Linked DNA regions of Homo sapiens: all the other regions are linked to region 1. Evidence: fine-mapped expression QTL. A gene starts in region 1. Each other region holds a variant in brackets. All regions are shown on one strand. Distances are from middle to middle.

The links. PIP is the estimated chance that this variant, and not a neighbour inherited with it, causes the effect.
Region 2: its variant is fine-mapped to the expression of BTBD1 in whole blood (INTERVAL, PIP above 0.99).
Region 3: its variant is fine-mapped to the expression of BTBD1 in whole blood (TOPMed, PIP above 0.99).
Region 4: its variant is fine-mapped to the expression of BTBD1 in whole blood (TOPMed, PIP above 0.99).
Region 5: its variant is fine-mapped to the expression of BTBD1 in lung (TOPMed, PIP above 0.99).

Annotation. Positions count from the first base shown.
Region 1 is chr15:83,064,761-83,068,910 of GRCh38, forward strand. BTBD1 (BTB domain containing 1) reads right to left here and starts at 2,492. Exons shown (of 8, transcript NM_025238.4): 1 at 1,991-2,492. The coding sequence starts at 2,391. It overlaps MIR4515 (microRNA 4515), which reads left to right and starts at 2,575; the gene lies at 2,575-2,655. RefSeq lists silencers at 1,810-1,979, 2,220-2,699 and enhancers at 2,760-2,879, 2,890-2,939.
Region 2 is chr15:83,087,632-83,091,781 of GRCh38, forward strand. No RefSeq gene overlaps it. Among named protein-coding and RNA genes, the nearest start is that of TM6SF1, 18 kb to the right of the region's middle. The variant C/T (reference allele first, on the strand shown) is at 2,501.
Region 3 is chr15:83,119,506-83,123,505 of GRCh38, forward strand. It overlaps TM6SF1 (transmembrane 6 superfamily member 1), which reads left to right. Exons shown (of 10, transcript NM_023003.5): 4 at 73-176; 5 at 2,416-2,498; 6 at 3,252-3,373. It also overlaps a transcript of HDGFL3 not described here. Among named protein-coding and RNA genes, the nearest start is that of TM6SF1, 14 kb to the left of the region's middle. The variant T/C (reference allele first, on the strand shown) is at 1,651.
Region 4 is chr15:83,033,680-83,037,829 of GRCh38, forward strand. All of the region lies in intron 4 of BTBD1 (BTB domain containing 1), which reads right to left. The region is part of intron 1 of LOC124903542 (a long non-coding RNA gene); the gene reads left to right. Among named protein-coding and RNA genes, the nearest start is that of C15orf40, 24 kb to the left of the region's middle. The variant A/T (reference allele first, on the strand shown) is at 2,220.
Region 5 is chr15:82,243,472-82,247,621 of GRCh38, forward strand. The region is part of intron 4 of EFL1 (elongation factor like GTPase 1); the gene reads right to left. Among named protein-coding and RNA genes, the nearest start is that of EFL1, 17 kb to the right of the region's middle. The variant T/G (reference allele first, on the strand shown) is at 2,185.

The sequences.
Region 1 (4,150 bases):
TTTTGAAAACTACTTCTAGTCTAGAAAATCCAAATGAACTATACCCAATCCTCCTGGTGAACTTTAAACTAAAATGACCTGGATTTTAGCTTTTGAGGTCCCCCCCCTTTATAAATGTAACTGAACTAAATTACAGAAAATATCAGAAACAAAGAATAAAGAAGAAAAAAAGGTACTTTCATCTCACTACTCCAGGTGACTTTGCTTAGCATTTTGGTATGTTTCCTTTTATCCCGGTCTCTAGGTATATGTTTGTTCCATGTCTTTTCACGTTGTAACCATGGTGCAGTTTCAAGTGCTATCCGTCATATTTAGTGACTGCATTATATCTCATCAAGTGAACCTACCACTGTTTAACCATTCCCTACAGCTGACTACTTCCTCACTACTATAAATAAAGCTGTAAATATTTTTGTATGCAATTTGCAATACTTGAATGCTTCTTACGTGTGGAAAGAAAATCTATAGCACCAAACTGTTTTCCAAAAGGGTTTTTACCACCATCTTTGTCAGAAAATGCTGTTCAGATGTTACCTTTAAATTTTTTGGTGGGATTAATGGAAGGAAAAAATACCACTGTCTTTTAATTTGCACTTCCTAATTACCAGCCAGGTAAAACATTCGTTAATTAGTTGTATTTTTTCTTTCTCTAAGTTATCTATCCTGTCCTTTATCCATTCGTCAATGGAATCTTATTATTTGTTTCTAGTTGTGTGAACTTTACATTCATTTTCTTGTTCATCTTTCTGATTCAACTGTGAACCTTTGTATCTAATTCTGTCCCACTGACCTGCCTGTTTTTGCTTCAGTACTACCCAAGACTCTGCCATTTTAATAACAACACGTTCTACTCAGGCAGCTATTTAAAACCATCTTAGTATAATGAAACAGACATGGTCTTCAGTGTGAGTTAGCTGTTTGTTACCTTGGGCAAGATACTTGACTCTTCTGGGCCTCAGTCCCATTTGTGAAATTGGGGTAAACAATTCTTACGCCTCCCTAACAGGATGGCTGTGATTAAAAGCTAGTAATGCCAAACAATCACCTTTTCATTAGATGTCAATCTACTATCCTCAAATAACCAACAAGCAAATTCTAACATCAAGGGAGGGATTCATTTATAAGCAAATGTGACCTTGTGTGTAGAAACACAAAGCAGGTAAAGCCTCACTTGTCTGTTTTCGTATTTACTTTCCTGGGTCTTGACAACTAATACGTTAATGAAAAACAAAAACAAAAACAAAAAAGTGGCCAGGCGCGGTGGTTCACGCCTGTAATCCCAGCACTTTGGGAGGCCGAGGTGGACGGATCGCTTGACCCCAGGAGTCCGAGACCAGCCTGGGCAACATAGTGAAACCCTCTCTCTACCAAAAATAAAAATAAAAAAAATTAGCCGGGCGTGGTGGCGCGTGCCTGTAGTCCCAAATACTCGGGAGGCTGAGGTCGGAGCATCACCTGAGCCCGGAGAGGTCGAGGCTGCAGTGAGCCATGATCGCGCTACAGCATTCCAGCCTGGGCAACAGAGCAAGACCTTGTCTCAAAAAAAGCGGGGGGAAGGGGGTGACAATAACCCCAAAACATCAGTCCTGCAAGATTTTTCAACTACTCTCTTCCCCCAAACAAAAACATAAAACTTCGCAAATGGGCAATCAGGACAACCTGATCTGCCCCTCTATCCTTGCCACTTGTCTAATTCTGAAGTCTGAGCGACAATCCATAATTGGAATGCGAAACGCCTTTCAATGGTAAAACGCACGCTTGCCTAATGAAGACACTAACGTTTAGTTGGCGACTGAGCCGTCCTGGTTCACAGATTTCGATTTCGACCCTCCGGAGCATCAACGGCTCGGGAGGAAACTGAGGCCCCGGGCGGGTCAGAAGAGCCCAGCCCAAGGTCATCCGGGAGTCCGGGTAGGCCGGGCCCCGGGGATCTCCCAGCCCGGCCCGGCCCGGCCCGGCCCGGCCCGGCCCGGCCCGCGCTGCCGCTCACCTCAGCAGCGCCAGGAAGGCTGCGGGCTCCACGTCCGGCAGCTCGATCTCGGCCGACGTGGTGGCCATGCCGCCGTTGAACATGGCGTCAAAGACGGCGCTGCCGGCCGCCAGCACGAAGCGGTGGGCGGGGATGCGCTGCGGGCCCCCAGCGGCGGCGGCGCCGCGACCCTTGCCCAGTACGAAGCGCACATCGCTCAGCAGCTCCGAGTTGAAGAGGAAGGCGAAGCGCTCCTTCAGCGACGCCTTGGTCGCCTGCCAGTTGTAGAGAGGTTCCCGCTGCAGGGGGAGCAGGGGCCCCAGAGAGGACGGTGAGGGCGGCGGCGGCGGCCCCGCGGGGCCCGGCTCCGCCTCAGCCCCCGACGCCTGCTCCCCAGCTGCGGCAGGCCCGAGTGAGGCCATCCTCCAGCTGCGCGGTTGCCCACGTTATGGACAAAACTCCGCCGCCATCGCCCAGGCCGCCTCCGGAGGCCGGCGCTGCCTCCCTGCCTTCCGGGAAAGGCGCTTCCGGGGGCCTCGCGCCTCCGCAGGCCCCTCCCTGACCGCGCGCGCCCCCGCACGCCCGGGTTGCCGCTGTGCGCGGCCGCGGGAGGTGTAACAGGACTGGACTCCCGGCAGCCCCAGGGCAGGGGCGTGGGGAGCTGGTCCTAGCTCAGCGCTCCCGGAGGTGGAGCTTCTGCAGGCTGGGTGCTGCCGGGCCTACGGGCACCCACCCCCTGGCTCAGTGCCCTGGGTATTCTGACTCAGTAGGTCTGGGGTAGGGCCTGAGAATTTGTAATTTTAAGATGCATCGTGGATCTGCAGGCGGCTCTCACGGCTGCCTTTTTCTTCCTGCAGGCCCCTTATCACCAAGTCCAGCGCCCCCATTGTGTATCTGGGACATGTCCCAAGGCCTGTCCCGAGGAGTGTTTTGCCTGGAAGTGGAGGGGCAGGAAAGTATGGCCAAGGGAACACGTGAGGGAGGGGATGACATGACTTCCCACAACCCTGTACCCCAAGCGTGGCCAAGTCGCCGCTCCAGAAGGCCGCGAAACCCGTGGAAATTCCGGAAGCAGAGGTGGAAGGCTTAGAACCCCAGTGACCTCTCCCCAGGTCCGCAGGTCCCTTTCCCTTCTAATTGACCCTTTGGTTCCGTCCTCTGGGCCTAAGAGACATTTCCTTCTACTGCTTCCACCCCTGTATTTGAAACCCCTCGTGCTTGCCCACCTTCTCTTGTAGCGCTTTTCAGTCCTTGCACTGAACCACTGCCTAAGCTTGAAATTTAAAAAATTAAAAACTAAAACACACACACAATGGAAAAGGCTGTATTATCCCTTCCCAGGCAGTATTTACAACCCGGTCATCATGATTGGGGGACCGAGGCCTTCCTTTTTCTCCCTTCAGTGAGGCAGGCCCTGAGTTAAGTCAGCTGTCAAAAGCAGAACGTAGAAAACCCAAGAAATAGTCCTTGACCAGGCACGTATAGTTGGAAACACCTGTTCTTTGCAGGAAGAGCCTTACAGATTACAAATGCCGTCAAGTAAATAGTAAACCCCAAACCTGGGTTTCTCCTGTAAAATCACTCCACTTGTGAAACCACCAGAGGGGACTTCCAGCTGTTAGGCATTTAGAATGGTAACTTCTTTGGGAGAGGAACGTGCTTGGGAAGAGACTTAAAGTAGTAGGGGCTGAAATAGTGGATGCACAACCCCTTCCCCATTGCCAGCCGGCAATTCCTAAAGACAAAGGGACATCATGCTACTAATGATACCATTATCACACCTAACAAAATTAACCATATCATCAAATCATCTATATATGATTTTTTTTTTTTTGAGACGGAGTCTCGCTCTGTTGCCAAAGCTGGAGTGCAATGGCATGAAGTCTGCCTTCCGGGCTCAAGCGATTCTCCTCCTCAGCCTCCCGAGTAGCTGGGGTTACAGGTGCGTGTCACCACATCCAGCTAATTATTTGTATTTTTAGTAGAGACGGGGTTTCACCATATTGGCCAGGCTCCTCTCCAAGTCCTGACCTCGTGATCTACCCGCCTCGGCCTCCCAAAGTGCTGGGATTACAGGCATGAGCCACCAGGCCTGGTCCTATGTATAATATTTAATGTACAGTTAATATTTGTTTCTCCACTTGTCTCTAAAAAAATTTTTTTTTGAGACGGAGTCTTGCT
Region 2 (4,150 bases), 23 kb after region 1:
ATGAAGACTAGGCACAGTTGCTGTGATTCTACTGCAGTGATATAAATATGACCTTCCACGAAAAAGCATGTCATGGCCAGAAGTAAAATTCAAAGCAGCAGGTTGGGTTTCAGAGTCTACGATGCTAGAATATGCTGCCTCTCTGGTTACAGGGAAATAAATATAGACCAGACTGATTATGTGAACACATTTTATTTAACTTTGCCCATCTTTACTCATTTCCCAGCCAACAGAAACTAAATCAACCCAGCTATAAGTAGGTCTGCTTATCTCTTTCCTTCCAGCCTCAGAAATTTCCCTTCTTTTCAAGGCTAAATTTTCCATCTTTGCTGTTGAGTTTATTCCCTTGCTGTCTTGCTAAATTACCTGTCCATTTTTTTTTCTTTTTTTTTTTTGAGACGGAGTTTTGCTTTTGTTGGCCAGACTGCAGTGCAGTGTTGCGATCTTGGCTCACCACAACCTCCATCTCCCGAGTTCAAGCAATTCTCCTGCCTCAGCCTCCTAGGTAGCTGCAATTACAGGCATGCGCCACCATGCCCGGCTAATTTTGTATTTTTAGTAGAGATGGGGTTTCTCCACGTTGGCCAGGTTGGTCTCGAACTCCTGACCTCAGGTGATCCACCCGCCTCAGCCTCCCAGAGTGATGGGATTACAGGCGTGAACCACCGTGCCTGGCCTGTCCATTTCCTTTCTGGTGACTTTGATGTCTCCATTTCCACTGGTTCCTTTCCTTGATATCCACAAATACATAACTAATTTCCCTAACAGAAAAACATCTCCTCAAAGCCTCTGCTTCAGCTTCTGAGTGTCTTCCTTTCTTCTTCCTTCCTATCAAAGTTTCTTCACTCCACATTTTCATCTCCTCACAGTCTTCATGCCGCTGTGGTCTGGCTCTGGCCACCACTCCCCTGAGTGGCTCTAAGGCCACTGGCTGGTGATCTCCTACCTGCCAAGTCCATGAGTCTTTTTCTGTCATGTTATTTGACCTCACTGGGCTTGGTGGTTGACCATTCACTCCTTGAAACTCTCCTTACCTGGAATTTGTAACACAGTTTTATAATTTTTCACACTTGTCTTTCTCTAATGTTTTCTTTTCAGTTTGCTGTATCACAACCTCCTCTTCTGCCCCACCGTGGGCACTGGTATTACCCATGCTTCCATCCTTGGCTGTCTACTTCCTACTCTCAACCCACTTTCTGCTTAATCTCATGGATTCCCATGATTTCAGCTAGTGCTGGTGATCTCCAAAGCTGTATCTCCAGCCCTGATCATTCTTAGCATAATACTTGTTTTGAATATTCAAACATCTAGAAATCTGTTGGTGTCCTACAGACATGTCAAACTGAACTGACTACATCTCCTTCCCTGGAGCCTCTTTCAATTCCTTGTAAGTAAATTTCTGCTACCTTAAAAAAAATCCAGCCAAAATCCTGGTAGTGAAGCGGGAAGAATGTCTGGCTGTCTGACGATAGCCTGTGGCCTCAACAGATCATTTATATAAGAATGTGACAGAAATGTGCTAGCTATGTCATACAGTTGTGTCCAGAGATGAGGGGAAAGAGTTCATCACATTCCTATTTCAGGGAATAACACCACCAACCAGTTAGCCACATGCTGTGGTAGAAACTAGCTAAGCCCCAGTTGCTATCCTGCTATCCTGGTCTACTCATCAATAGCTAGGTGAATTTGGGCAAGGATTTTTGTTTGTTTGTTTGTTTGTTTGTTTGTTTTTAATTGAGACAGAGTTTCTCTCTTGTTGCCCAGGCTGGAGTGCAGTGGCGCAATCTCAGCTCACTGCAATCTCTGCCTGCTGGGTTCAAGTGATTCTCCTGCCTCAGCTTCCTGAGGAGCTGGGATTACAGGTGCGCGCCACCACGCCCAGCTAATTTTGTATTTTTAGTAGAGACGGAGTTTCACCATGTTGGCCAGGCTGGTCTCAAACTCTTGACCTCAGGATATCTGGCTGCCTTGGCCTCCCAAAGTGCTAGGATTACAGGCGTGAGCCACTGTGCCCGGCCTGGGCAAGGTTTTAAACCTTGCTAGGTTTCTATTTCTTCTTCTGTCAAATGGGGATAATAACATTGTTGTTTACCTACCTAGGATAACATAAAAGATCAGATTGTTCAATTAGACTCACAGGACTCAGTAATCTTATCCAGTATTGGCCTTTACTGAGAATTCGAAAGATACACATGATATTGAGACTTGGGCCAAGCACAGAGATGCTGAGGACCACCAGTGCAGCTCCCGGTCCTCTCTCGCCATATTAGGATGCACCCTGGCACAAAATGGACATAGGAGGTTTTTAAGTGATGCATGCAGGATATAACTTACACAAAGAGGTCAGGAAACACCTTCGTTTTATACTTCAGTAATTACACAGCTGACAGATCAGCTATATCCTGGTAAATTATTGCATAAATAAGGGCTTTTTGTTATCTTTCTGATTGTAAATGCCATCAATAAGTATTTAGGAGATTGGGCCAGGTGTGGTGGCTCA[C/T]GCCTGTAATCCCAGCACTTTGGGAGGCTGAGGTGGGCGGATCACAAGGTCAGGAGATTGAGACCATCCTGGCCAACATGGTGAAACCCTATCTCTACTAAAAATTAGCTGGGCGTGGTGGTGCCTGCCTGTAGTCCCAGCAACTCAGGAGGCTGAGGCAGGAGAATCGCTTGAACCTGGGAGGTGGAGGTTGTAGTGAGCCGAGATTGTGCCACTGCACTCCAGCCTGGCAATAGAGTGAAACTCTGTCTCAAAAAAAAAAAAAGCATTTAGGAGATTGACCTGGGTCAATTCTTTTTTCTTTTTGTCCCCTTTCCTCAGATGTTCTGAAGGTTGGAAATATGACTTACTACCATTACCTAACAGTTATTTCTTCTTCTTTCCTAGTTAATACAACCTGATTTCATTTGGGCCACAACATGTACAAAGAAGGAATACCTGTCCCCAGGCCTCAGAGAAAAGTCATGATTGATTGAAGCTTAGCCCGTTCCCCTGCTAGAGATTGCTTCTGAACTCAGCATGTGGCCAATTATGGCCAATGAGATGGAAGAGTCTGGAAGCAGGCTTTTGGAAAGATTCTTGTAGCCTAGTTAAAGATAAAATCCCGGAAAGGGAAAAGCCTTGTGTTGACAAGCTTAAGAGTGAAAAACCAACGTGTTGAGGAGGAGGATTAGGAAGACATAAAGAGGCCGGGTTCTTAATGACATCCTTGAGCCACTGCAGCTAAAAAGGAAACTTCTTTCTCCAGGATTCTTATGTCAGATTTTCAAATGTCTTCATGGCTTAAACCAGATTTATGCATTCTGTTACCTGTAACTTCATGTGTTCCCAGTGAAAACAGTACCTTGTAGAGTTGCTTGAGAATCAAGACAGGCACTGAAAGTAATGCGTCAAGCATACAACAAGTTTCTATCTTATAAGCACTACCCAACATCTTTTTCTCCTTTCTTCCCTGGTTTATAAAACTTGATTTTATTTGGGCAGCCACAAGCACAAGGAAGGAGGACCTTGTTTCCAGGCCTCAGAGAAGAACCCAAATAGGTCTCAGCATCTCTCAGTATACCTTAGTCCTTTTAGTTCCCTTTCCTTTTCCTTCTCCCAGCCAGCTGTCATCCCTAAATTCTTCTGTGGTCCATGTTTCTCAACATCCATTTAATCATCAAACTCTTAGATTTGATTCCTAATTAACCTTTCCTTTCTCCTTTCGTTGCAGCCGCCATAGTCAAGACCCGTTCATTTGTAGCTTAGATTACTGCTCTTCTCAGCTCTTTGCTGCCTAGTTCATACCCCCTCACCTCATTCTCTGTATATCTACCAGACTAAGCTACTAAAATGGCCAAGCTGAGCATGTCACTCCTCTGCTTAAAAGTTTCACTAGGATGGGCGCAGTGGCTCACACCTGTAATCCCAGAAATTTGGGAGGCTGAGGCGGGCAGATCACCTGAGGTCAGGAGTTCGAGACCAGCCTGGACAACATGGAGAAACTCCATCTCTACTAAAAATACAAAATTAGGCCGGGCGCAGTGGCTCATGCCTGTAATCCCCGCACTTTTGGAGGCCAAGACGGGCAGCTCACAAGGTCAGGAGTTCAAGACCAGCCTGGCCAGCATGGTGTAACCCCGTTTCTACTAAAAATACAAAAATTAGCCA
Region 3 (4,000 bases), 55 kb after region 1:
TGCAATACAGGTCTGATGTTCTGCATTTACAGGTCTTATTTAAAGTGGACTTCTTTTTAATGCTTTCTTTAGGGTGAACCGTATCTGAACACCGCATATGGGCACATGATCTGCTACTGGGATGGCTCTGCTCATTATCTGATGTACCTGGTGATGGTGGCAGCCATAGCATGGGAGTAAGTCAGTTCACCTGGTGTGTGCCTTTGCCACCTTAGCAACCGATAAGCGGGTATGTAAGGAAACGTTATGCATAGAGGCAAATACACAAGCAGGTATACTGGACATGAATATAAGTTCCATGGGTGCACGTCAGACGTGGCTTTATCCTCCTTGTACCACTGCCTTTTGAATATGTCCTTCTGAATTGCTCCCTAGCATGGTGACAGCTCGGGCAGACCCTTTAAGCTTTCTGATTATGTTGTCTTACAAGAATAATTTTTATTTTCAGCAATTAAAGCTAAGCACATCTTAAACTTCATTTCAAAACTTCAAAATTTCCAAACAGCAATCTCATTTCGGTTCAAAGCTTCTGTCCTTCCCCAGATCAGGCACAGCTCTGCGGCTTGGCTCGCACTAAGGCTTGGCTACATGGCTTGTCCGTTCACTCCTCCTGTCTCACTCTGCGGCTGGCCCCTTGGCAGTGGATGTGTATGTACAAGGGATTAAAGGAACAGGAGCCGAGTCTGATGTGAAAGGTGCTGGTTTTTGGGTATTGGTACCCCCATCATGATATGCTAGCTTGGTCTTGGGAGGCACACATGTGAGTTCTTTAGAGACCCCAACCACAGGAGCTTCTGCATTGCACTAATCCCTGAAGTGAACGACGTGCTCTTGGGCTGAATTTCTGCCCATGGTGGCACACCCACAGCTTTTTTTCTGCTGGGGCCCCTGTAACCCAGAAGGTACACCCTTTGGGGAGGGGTCTTTTCAAAACATTTCAAGTCCGGCCATCTTCTCAGGCCTCCACTTGCTTCTGGGTTACAGAAAGTCATGCATTCTTGCCCCATACAAGGTTGAAATGTAGTTTACCCAAGTATCTCCCTCACTCCCAACATGCACTCAAGGTCAGCTCCAGCTAATTCTTTTTTTTTTTTTTTTTTTTTGAGACAGGCTGGAGTGCAATGGCACAATCTCAGCTCACTGCAATCTCCGCCTCCCAGGTTCAAGCGATTCTCAGGCCTCAGCTGGGACTACAGGCGTGTGTCACTATACCCGCAAATTTTGTATTTTTAGTACACAAATCTAAACATTTTTTTCACCATGTTGGCCAGGCTGGTCTCAAACTCCTGACCTCTGGTGATCTGCCCGCCTCAGCCTCCCAAAGTGCTGGGATTACAGGCGTGAACCACCGTGCCCGGCTCCAGCTCATTCTTATCTGTTCTCCTGCTTATAATCCCAGTCATTATGAATGGGCCTCTTGGGGTCTGGTTACATTTGGCTTGAGGGCGGGGGTGGGGCAGGACGCACACAGTATTCTCGTTTCCCTTCAGAGAATTTCCTTTTGAATTTCTCATAGCCTGTTACATAGTGTGGAGTTTGGGTTATTGGGGTTATCAATTGAAGGAACTTTTTTTTTTTATTTTGAGACGGAGTCTCGCTCTGTCACCCAGGCTGGAGTGCAGTGGTGCGATCTTGGCTCGCTGTAACCTC[T/C]GCCTCCCAGGTTCAACCATTTCTCCTGCCTCAGCCTCCCAAGTAGCTGGAATTACAGGTGCATGCCACCATGCCCAGCTAATTTTTTTTTTTTTTTTGTACTTTTAGTAGAGATGGCGTTTCACCATGTTGGCCAGGCTGGTTTCAAACTCCTGACCTCAAGTGATCTGCCCACCTCAGCTTCTCAAAGTGCTGGGATTACAGGCATGAGCCACCATGCTCGGCCTGAAGGAAGTTTTTGTCAGCATTGAAGATTTGGGGTATATGTCTAGCAGCTCCTTTGCAACATGGGGTACATGTCACTTGTCTTCACCTTTGGGGCTTTGGCCAAAATTCTGTGACCCCAGAAAAAGTCCATTTAACATTATCATTGTAAGTATAACTCATACTTATAATGATTAAAAATATGGATCCAATTTCATTTCTTCTTTCAACTTTCTTTTTCCTTTCATGCTGTTGAGTTTCACACACAATAGGGAAATGCAGGAGTCCTGTGGCAGGGATGATCATGTTGTAGTTTAACAGAAGACATAGCAGGCGTAATTTCCTATTTAAAAGGACACGAAGAAGGTTCTATAGTATATCACATGGCAATGAAGTTACATAACCAGGGCTCCTTGTGTTTGATTTATTCCTCTCAATTCAATATGTTTTGATTGATGTACTTTACTAGTTTGAATACAAAATAATATTGAAGATCATTTTTTGCTTAGTATTCTAAGACAAACATACCAAGTCAAGATTTTTTTGTTGTTGTTGTTACAGGGAAACTTATAGAACCATTGGCCTATATTGGGTTGGATCTATTATTATGAGTGTTGTTGTTTTTGTGCCAGGAAACATTGTAGGTAAGAAACTTTATCTTAAAGTTCACTTTCCTTTTCTAAAACAATGGGGCTTGTTTTTAAATAGAGAAGCTCTTTTAGTTATAATAGAACCAAGTGATTCCAAGCTTACTAAAAACCTGTTTTGCAGAATAATTCCTTTTTCTCACCTTTAAAAAAAGTACTTTTTAAGAAGTGCTTTGAGCAATTTTCAGATGTGTGCATTGAACAATTTGGCAGTCAAGTTATCAGGGATTCCTGTTTTTTTAGAAGGATCTTGAGGGAGTGAGTATGGTGTTTATGGCTATATTTAGTGTGCAAATATGTTAACTCCTGACACACTATGAGAACTCCAAAAATGTACTTGGAAATTACAAGTACATTATTAATGTATGCAGGAAATCAGGATATATAGGTAGATAGATAGATAGATAGATATAGATATAGGGAGATAGATATATACAAACATATATAGATACCTATCTAGATGTATTTTTTGAGACAGGATCTCACTCTGTTGCCCAGGCTGGCTTGCAGTGGTACAGCCATAGCTCACTGCAGCCTTGATCTCCTGGGCTCAAGCAGATTACTGTAGATAGGACATGCCTGTTAATACACATCTAGTATTTTAAATTGACCTTTTTAATTTGGCCTCATTAAAAATATTGTCTGGCCCATAGCAAAATTTTAGATGACCTGAGATGGGGAGGTATCCTAAATATTACTTGTGTTAGATATGCTTTTGGTAACTTCTTTCTCTTTCTCTCTTTTAAATAGGGAAGTATGGAACACGAATTTGCCCTGCTTTTTTCTTAAGCATACCATATACTTGTCTTCCTGTCTGGGCTGGTTTCAGAATCTATAATCAGCCATCAGAAAATTATAATTACCCCTCAAAGGTGATTTTATTAAGCTTTGATGTACCCTGTTCTCAAACTCATAGGGTTCTTTCGCATCCACTGGCCACTGAATTGAACCATGCCTCTGTGGACTGGAGCATTTGGGGCATCCAAACAGTGCGACTGTTTTGATTATGTAGCATTAGCTTACGTATTAATTAATGTAGGCAAGAAGGTCTGTTTCTGTCTGAATACATCTGCTTCTGTTGGCAAGGCCATACTTTGGGGAGCTTCCTGTGCCAGTGGTCACACTGGCTCTAACTATCAGATTCTGCATTAGTGTGTCAAGTGAAGTCCATAGTGTGTGGTTCATCTAGGATTGTTAATGGCCTGGACGTTGAACACCTGGGTTCCTCTGTGACACCTATGCATTTACTACCCCAAGAGGACACTGGAGGGATACTGCTCCTCAAGGTAGTCTACACAGCCATACAATCTTGACTCCAGAGATCCAGGCCCATAGAGACTGGCTACAGGACATCTGAGACACCTCCCTTCCATTCACAGCCAAGGTAGTCAAGGTGAAACAGCACTGGCCTGGCAGATACTCTGTTAAGGCCTTCATTTCTAAGCTAGTTTCTCTCTGTTTCTTTTACTTTTCTAGGTATTAGATCATTTAGCAAGATC
Region 4 (4,150 bases), 31 kb before region 1:
AGTGATCCCCACCTCAGCCCCCCAGGTAGCTGGGACTACAGGTGTGTACCACCACTCCAGGCTAATTTTTAAATTTTTTTTTGTAAAGACAGGGTTTCGCCATTTTGCCGAGGCTGGTCTTGAACTCGACTCAAACAATCTACCTGCCTCAGCCTCCCAAAGTGCTGGGACTAAAGGCATGAGCCACTGTGCCCCATCTAAAAAATTTAATTTTTAAGATTTAATTTAAAAATCAATAAGGATATATTCTTGTAATAACAAGGGCAACCCACTAAAATAATAATAAAAGAATCTTTAATACGGGAGGCTGAGGTGGGAGGATAACCTGAGCCCAGGAGGTTGACGCTGGAGTAAGCTGAGATCATGCCACTGCATTCCAGCCTGGGTGACAGAGGAGACACTGTCTACACCAAAAAAAAAAAAAAAAAGAAAAAGAAAAAGAAAGTTTAATAGACTATTAATCATATTAAATATAAAGTGAACCAAATATTCCAAATAAAAGGCAAAGTCTGTCAGACTGAATTTTTTAAAAATGAAGCTTACAAGAGACATGGTCAAAATAATGTAAGGCTAAAAGTAAAAGGATGAGAAAGATATAGAATTTAAAAAACCTTGAGAAACTATACCAATATCAGACAAAGACTTTAAAACAAGAAGTTTAGGCCAGGCGTGGTGGCTCATGCCAGAATGTTGGGTGACTGAGGCAAGCTGATCATTTGAGGCCAGGAGTTCGAGACTAGCCTGGCCAACATGGCAAAACCCCATCTCTACTAAAAATACAAAATTTAGCAGGGTGTGGTGGTGCACACATGTAGTCCCAGCTACTAAGGAGGCTGAGGCATGAGAATTGCCTGAACCCAGAAGGTGGACGTTGCAGTGAGCCAAGATTGTGCCACTGAACTCCGGCCTGGGTGACAGAGGGAGACTGTCTCAAAAAATAAAATAAAAAACAAAAACCCACAATAAGTTTAGATTTAAGATGAGATAGACTGTAAAGATAAAGAAGCAAATTCAATATAAAAAAAAATCCTAAATTTGAAGGTACCTAAAATAAAGAAGAAAATAAAGAAGAAAACTGATGGAACCAAAAGGAAACACATTCTCAATCATACCCTGAGATTTAAATCTACTTCTTTTAGTAACTGATAGAACAAAAAGCAAATCAATAGATAGATACATAGAAAATTTGAAGATCATTAGTATATATTCCTTTCATAGATATAGTATTCAATCTGTTGAACAGATACAGGACTATTCAGGTTTTTCTGCACATAACAAAGAAGAATACATTCTTCTCAAGTATACATGGATACTTATTACAACTACCGTATGGGCCAGGCACGGTGGCTCATGCCTGTAATCCTAGCATTTTGGGAGGCCATGATGGGTGGATCACCTGAGGTCAGGAGTTTGAGACCAGTCTGGCCAACATGGTGAAACCCTGTCTCTACTAAAAATATAAAAATTAGCCGAGCGTGGCACCGCATGCCTGTAATCCCAGCTACCGGGGAGGCTGAGGCAGGAGAATCGTTGGACCCCAGGAGGCGGAGGTTACAGTGAGCCAAGATCATGCCACTGCACTCCAGCCTGGGTGACAGAGTGAGACATTGTCTCAAAAATAAATAAAACAAAATAATAAAAAATAAATAAAACTACCATATGCTGGGCCAAAGCAGATATCAACAAATTTCAAAGCATTGAAATGATATAGAATATATTTTCTGACTATACTGGAATTAAGACAGAAATCAGCAAGAGCAAGATAAGAAGAAATCTCAAATATTTGGAAATTAAGTTATCTATAATTTATGAGTCAAAGAAAAAAAAAGCAAAAATTAAAAATTCTTAATCGAATGCTAATGAAAATACACATATTAAAAACTGTGGGGGGGAAGGATGCTGAGAGAAAAAATATACACTTAAATATATGCATTCAAAAAGAATATAGGTTGACCTTCTAAGTATCTCAAAAAGTCACAAAGACTAATAAAATAAATAACCCCAGCAAATTAAAAGCAAAGAAAGGAAAGAAAGTAATAAAGAAAAAGGCAGAAAGTAATGAAATGGAAAACATACTGTAATAGAGAAAATTAATAAAGCTAGAAGTTGGTTCCAGGAGAAAATTAATAATACAAACTCTTGAACACTGGGGGAAAAAAAGGAAATATTTCTAACTTTTGTATGAGGACAATTTTGACAATTTCATTGCAAGAAAAAAA[A/T]ATATATATAGACTAATTTCTCTCATTCAGTAGTCATAAAAATACATTAAAAATTCAGCAAATTAAATCCAGTAATATATAAAAAGGATAATGCATAACAACCAAGTCTGATTTACGTAAGGAATCCAAAATAGGTTTAAATTGGGAAATCAATTAATGTAGTTCACTATATTCACAGAATAAGGGGGAAAACTGTATCATTACCAAAAAAAAAAAAAAAAAAGAATAATAGCTTGATTCCTCTAAAAGAAAGCAAGAAAGGAAAAAAAAAAAAAAGATGTGACAAGTAGAAAACAAATTGCAAGATGGTAAACATAAACCCAAATATATCTGTAATTACATTAAGTGCAAGTGAACCAAAACAGTTCAGATAAAAGACAAAGTCTGTCAGACTGGATTAAAAAATTATTGGCATATTCAACATCATTAATCATCCGTGATATGAAATTTAAAACCAAAATGAAATACGTCCTCACATCCACACAAATGGCTAGAACTACAAAAACTGACAATACCAAGTATTGGAGAGGATGTGGGCAACCAAAACAAACTCTTATGTCTCTTCACTTTGTTGATGAGTGTAAACTGTTACAACCACTTTAAGGGACTGTTTGGCAGGATGGCAGGATCTACTAAAGCCGACCATATGCACACTCCATGACTTAGCAATTCCACTCGTATATATCCAACAGAAATGTTTACGTATGTATACCAAATCACACGTACAAGAATGGCCTCAATGGTCCCCAAACAGAAATAATCCATATATCCAACAACAGTAAAATGGATAAATCATGGCACAGTTGTATAACAGAATATTATAAAGCAATGAAAAAGAATGAACTACTGCCACACTCAACCACATGGATGAATCTAACAGGCGTAATGTTAAGAGAAAGAAGCCACACAAAAATGAATACACACCATATATATGATTTCCTTTATATAAAGTTTACATATGGACACAACTAATTTATAGAAGACAGAAAGTAGTCACCTTTCAGAGGGAGATTAGTGACTTAGAGGGTCATGACAAAGGCTTCTGGGGTACTAGTACAGTAGGATAAATTGGTTAAATAAGTATGTTCACTTTATTTGTTAATTTTACTATATGGATGTTAAACTTTAATTTCAAAAGTTTATTTAAAAAAAACCCAAACACTGATTCTTATCAGCAAAAACAAAAACAATCTTGGAGAAAATTGGAACAAGTATAAGTCAGAAAAAAAAATTTGGTATAATAATAAATATACAAAGAATCAATGTAAGATAAACCAGTAAAACAAAATTTGAACACACCAACAGAACAACAAAAGACATGAATAATGTAAAGGAAAATAAATAGGCCAATAAGCATAATGAAATACAATTCAGCCAGGCACACTGGCTAAGAGGTGAAGGTGGAAGAATCACTTGAGCCCAGAAGCTCATGGCCAGCCTGAGCAACATGGCAAGACTTCATCTTTAAAACTAAAATAAAATCGAAAAATAAAAAGTAATACAATTCAAAACAATCATGAAATAGTGTTAAAAATAAAAACCATATGACTGTCTCAATAGACATGAAAAAGCATTCAATAAAATCCAGCATCTCTTCATGATAAAAGCCCTCAACAAACTAGGCATCAAAACAATATCCCCAAAATAACAAGAGCCATCTATGATAAATCCACAACTAACATCATGCTGAAAGGGCAAAAGCTAGAGGCATTCACCTTGAAATTAGAAAAAGACAAGGATGCTCACTCTAACCACTCCTATTCAACATAGTACTGGTAGTCCCAGCCAGAGCAATCAGGAAAGGAAAAGAAATAAAATGCACCCAAATAAGAAAAGAAGTCAAACTATCTCTCTTCACAGATGATATGCTTCTATACCTACAGAACCCTAAAGATTCCACCAGGCCAGGTGCGGTGGCTCACGCCTGTAAT
Region 5 (4,150 bases), 820 kb before region 1:
GATTCCTTCATACTTTGCAACTGGGGAAACAACACTTGCCTATTCATCTGGCTAAACTCCAGACTTTAGAGTGGGAGAACTTCAAGCACTTTTCCATCCTTTGTGATACGACCGGGACCTGATACTGAAGTTTCAGAGACTGGGTCTCCAGTCAAGTTCTTTACAGAGTCTAAAAATGCACTCGTACAGACATTTCAGGCTTCCTATACAACAGTGCTCTTACCTTTTATTGGAGTTACAGACCTTTTAGGGAATAGTCAGAAAAACGAATACCTATCTACTTATCTATGCTCCCCTAAGTACGCGTCCATTTCCAGATTCTTTGAAATTCATTCAGGAAGGGCAGGTTCAGATCTAGAGAGGAACTGAAAGCTAGAGATACACCAAGTGTTTCCACCCGACAATCTACATCCTAAAAAATAAGTGTCTGATCAAATAATATAGCTGAGAAATAAACAGCCAGCCTTGGAGCTCACATCACACATACATATTAAAGGTTCAGAGAAGCCCTGTAAAAGAAGTTTGTCCAATTCTGTTTAACCTGGAGTTTCTCAAATATATTTAATGGTGAGAAGGAGGAAATGCCATGGTCAGTTACACAGCTGACAAAGGCTTGGCTCAGCTCTGAGCCAGGCCTCCCAATTCCTCCTTCAATGCCTTTTTCATCTTAACCCTTTCCAAACAACGTTAACCTAAATTTCAAAGGTTGGGGACAGAAGTCCCATATCCATTAGAGAAAAAACGTCCCCAAGCACAGCTCTTCTGCTGTGACTTCAGCCACATTATGTCTCTTTAAAAAATGCCACTTACCACTTTTGCGTGTGTGTGATCAAATTAAAAAATACATAAACGCAGTTATAGGGGTTTACCATGGTAGATATTATTGTTATTGCCAGTATTAATTATTTAAAAAGTAGAGAATGCATAACACTTTTCAAGAGACAAAATTTTTTAAGCATGCTAAATGATCTTTCCGATTTGTAACAAAGTCCTGAAGCTATATGTTGAATTAATCCCTGCAATAGCATTCAGGGACAGAAACTTCTGCTGCTTTACTTCCCAGGCATTCCAAACTAAACGGCTTCATTTCAAGGCACAGATCTAATCAGTCAAGCAACAATCCAATCTTTTTATGTTCCAGGGGGCTGAAAAAAAAGTTGGAAGAACTGAAGTTAATTATGGGAGATATCTTCCAGACAATTTCTGCTGCTAATAGGGAGTTATGGGAAAAGAATTCCTCCCTTGCCCATGGTTTTAAAGTGCCATGGATAATTGTCTCACAGAAGGTGCACATTTGTCACTAGGACCTGCCAAAACATCTCTGTATTCAGTAAAACTTCATGTAAGGAGTTTAGTGTTCAACTTCCAAAACACTGGAAATGCTCACTAAAGCATACATAGAAAGCTGATGAGAGAAAACTTTCCATAAAATAAAAAAGAAAAACTGAAGTTATGGAAGAAGATCTGAACCTCCTGAAAGTGTCCTTTATGTGTCAGTGTATTGGTAGAGTATTTTGCCTGACAACAAAAATAACAGAAATATAGGCAGAACCTGAGTTATCTGAAGACATGTTCCTACATTCCTTATGTATGAACTTCTAACAATTATATACAAAAATTGTACCCCAACTATATATAAAGTAACCACAAGTCTCCCTCCACAGGAAATACTACTTTTTTTTGTTTTTTGTTTTTTTTAGAGACAGGGTCTCACTGAAACATTCAGGCTGGATGCAGTGGCACAATCATAGCTCACTGCAGCCTCAAATTCCTGGGCTCAAGCGATCCTCCTGCCTCAGCCTCCCAAGTAGCAGGGACTGCAGGCACACAAGGGTAACTTTTATTTTTTGTAGAGATGGGGTTTCACTGTGTTGCCGTGGCAGGTCTCAAACTCCTGTCCCTAAGTGATCCTTCTGCCTCAGTCTCCCAAAGTGCTGGGATTACAGATGTGAGCCACTGCACCTGGTTTCCTTTTATATCTTAAATCACTATTATCCTTTTATATTTTAAATCAATGTATAACATTATAAGTTATAAATCAACTAATACGACTTATTATTTGACAGAACTGTAAAGCACAATTGTAAAGCTGACACAGGTAACAGGGTAACTATCTTTATGAGAAGCCTGCCACAAGGAGAGGTGAAGGGTGGTTGACTCTGATAGTATGTGTCAAAACTGAGA[T/G]GGGGTCAGGCACAGTGGCTCATACCTATAATCCAAATGCTTTGGAAGGCCAAAACAGGAAGATCACTTGAGCCAAGACCAGCCTGGACAACATGGTAAGACCATCATCTCTACAAAAAAATTTAAAAAATTAGCCAGGCATGGTGGCACATGCCTGCAGTATTAGCTACTCGGGAGGCTGAGGCAGGAGGACTGCTTGAGCCTAGGAGTTCTGGGCTGCAGTGAGCTATGATCACCACTGCACTCCAGCCTGGGTGATAGAATGAGACTCTTGTCTTAAAAAAAAAAAAAAAGTGACAGGGGTTAGGAAAATGAGAGGAAAAATGATCTAGAAACAACTATGAATAGCAAACTGATTAAGTTTTCTTTTGCTGCACAAACCCGACCCGAAGACCTCTCCAGACCTTCCTCCAACATGAAACTAGACCACGTACAGACCACTTCTGATTACATTTGGCCTCACCCGCTTTTGGTTTTTCTCAGTATGATGCCAGTCCACATCTGCCACCCAGTACTGTGGCCACACCCTGAACTCTGACATCACTGAGAACTTCTCCACCTTTCAAGGCCTGCTGCGTAGATAGTAAATCTAATAATTACACATCCACATTGTCTTGATTCCTTTGATCATTGGCAGTTTTGCTTGGAAGGGTGTAAGAACCAGAATAAGAAACCCTGGAGTAAAAAAAAGGTTGATGTTTACTTCTTATAATCTCTCTATGCTTAGCATCACCCTGGAGAGAAGGTCATAGATCAAGGACCAATTTCACACTGCTAATGCATGTCATTACTGTAAGGTGCTAGTCTCATTATCGGAGTAATTGAGAGAGTAATTGTAGGATAACTTTGACTAAGAAGGGGGAAGAGGGAAAATGCAGAGGAATGTGGGGCTGAAAGAAGGATTTATGTATTTTTTTAAGACAAGAAAGACAAGAAAGACTTGAGCATGCTTAAAAGCTGATGGATACAAGCCAGTACAGAGGGAGAGGTGGAAGATACTGAAGAAAAGATCATTAAGTCCAGAGCACAGGTTTTTGCCAGTGACAGGAGGCAAGCAAAAAATGCCCATACCATTACGTTTTGAGATACAGTGGCAAGCAGGTGAGAATTCTTCTCTTTTCTGTGAAATAGAAGGTAAGAATGTCTGCTGAGATTGTGGAGGAGGGGATGACAGGTAGGCTGAAAGAGACCAGAAGGTTTAAAATAGGTATTGGGAAGAATGAGCAAGACCTAACAGTGAGAGATGGGAAATCTGCCAGCAGTCTGGAGGACCACTTGAGAACCTAGCCCAAATGCAAGGATGAAGACGTGTAGAGAATTAGCTTTATCAAGGGTTAAAGTTTTGTTGGGAAAAATATGACAGAAGGTCAAGAACCAAAGAGACTGAAGACGCTGGCAAGACTGTCAGTGAAATGACAAATCTGGGCTGTATGAAGCAGGAAATGAATGAAGAAAGAGGCTGTGGGGAGTCAAAAAAACTAGAGAACATTATGAAGTCAAAGAATGGGTACCTCATTAATCAGGTGAAAGAAAGAGCTGGGAGAATCAAAGATTGTAGAGAAGGAAGTATTTAAGTTTGAAAGGTCGAAGATGGATAGCTCAAGGTGATGCTAAAATCCAGAAAGTATTCATGACAACAGGTAGGTGAAACGCAGAATCAATGTTGTTGAGAGGATAAGCTGTTGAAGAAGTCATTCTCAGGGATGGTGAAAAGCCACCTTAGAAGATTCAGGTAAAAAGAACAATTATGAGTCCGGGTGCCAAATTCACTAATGAACAGGAACCATCACCAGGAGCTGACAATGACTGGAAAGGTGAATAATTGGATGGTCTGAGTCTTGAAAGAAGAAGTTTGAAAACAAGGGTAGAAGAATTAACTTTTGTAATCAGATCTGGGAACAAAAAGAATGGCAATCCCATATGCTAACCCAGAGATACGTGGAACATGAATGAATGAGTAGCATTC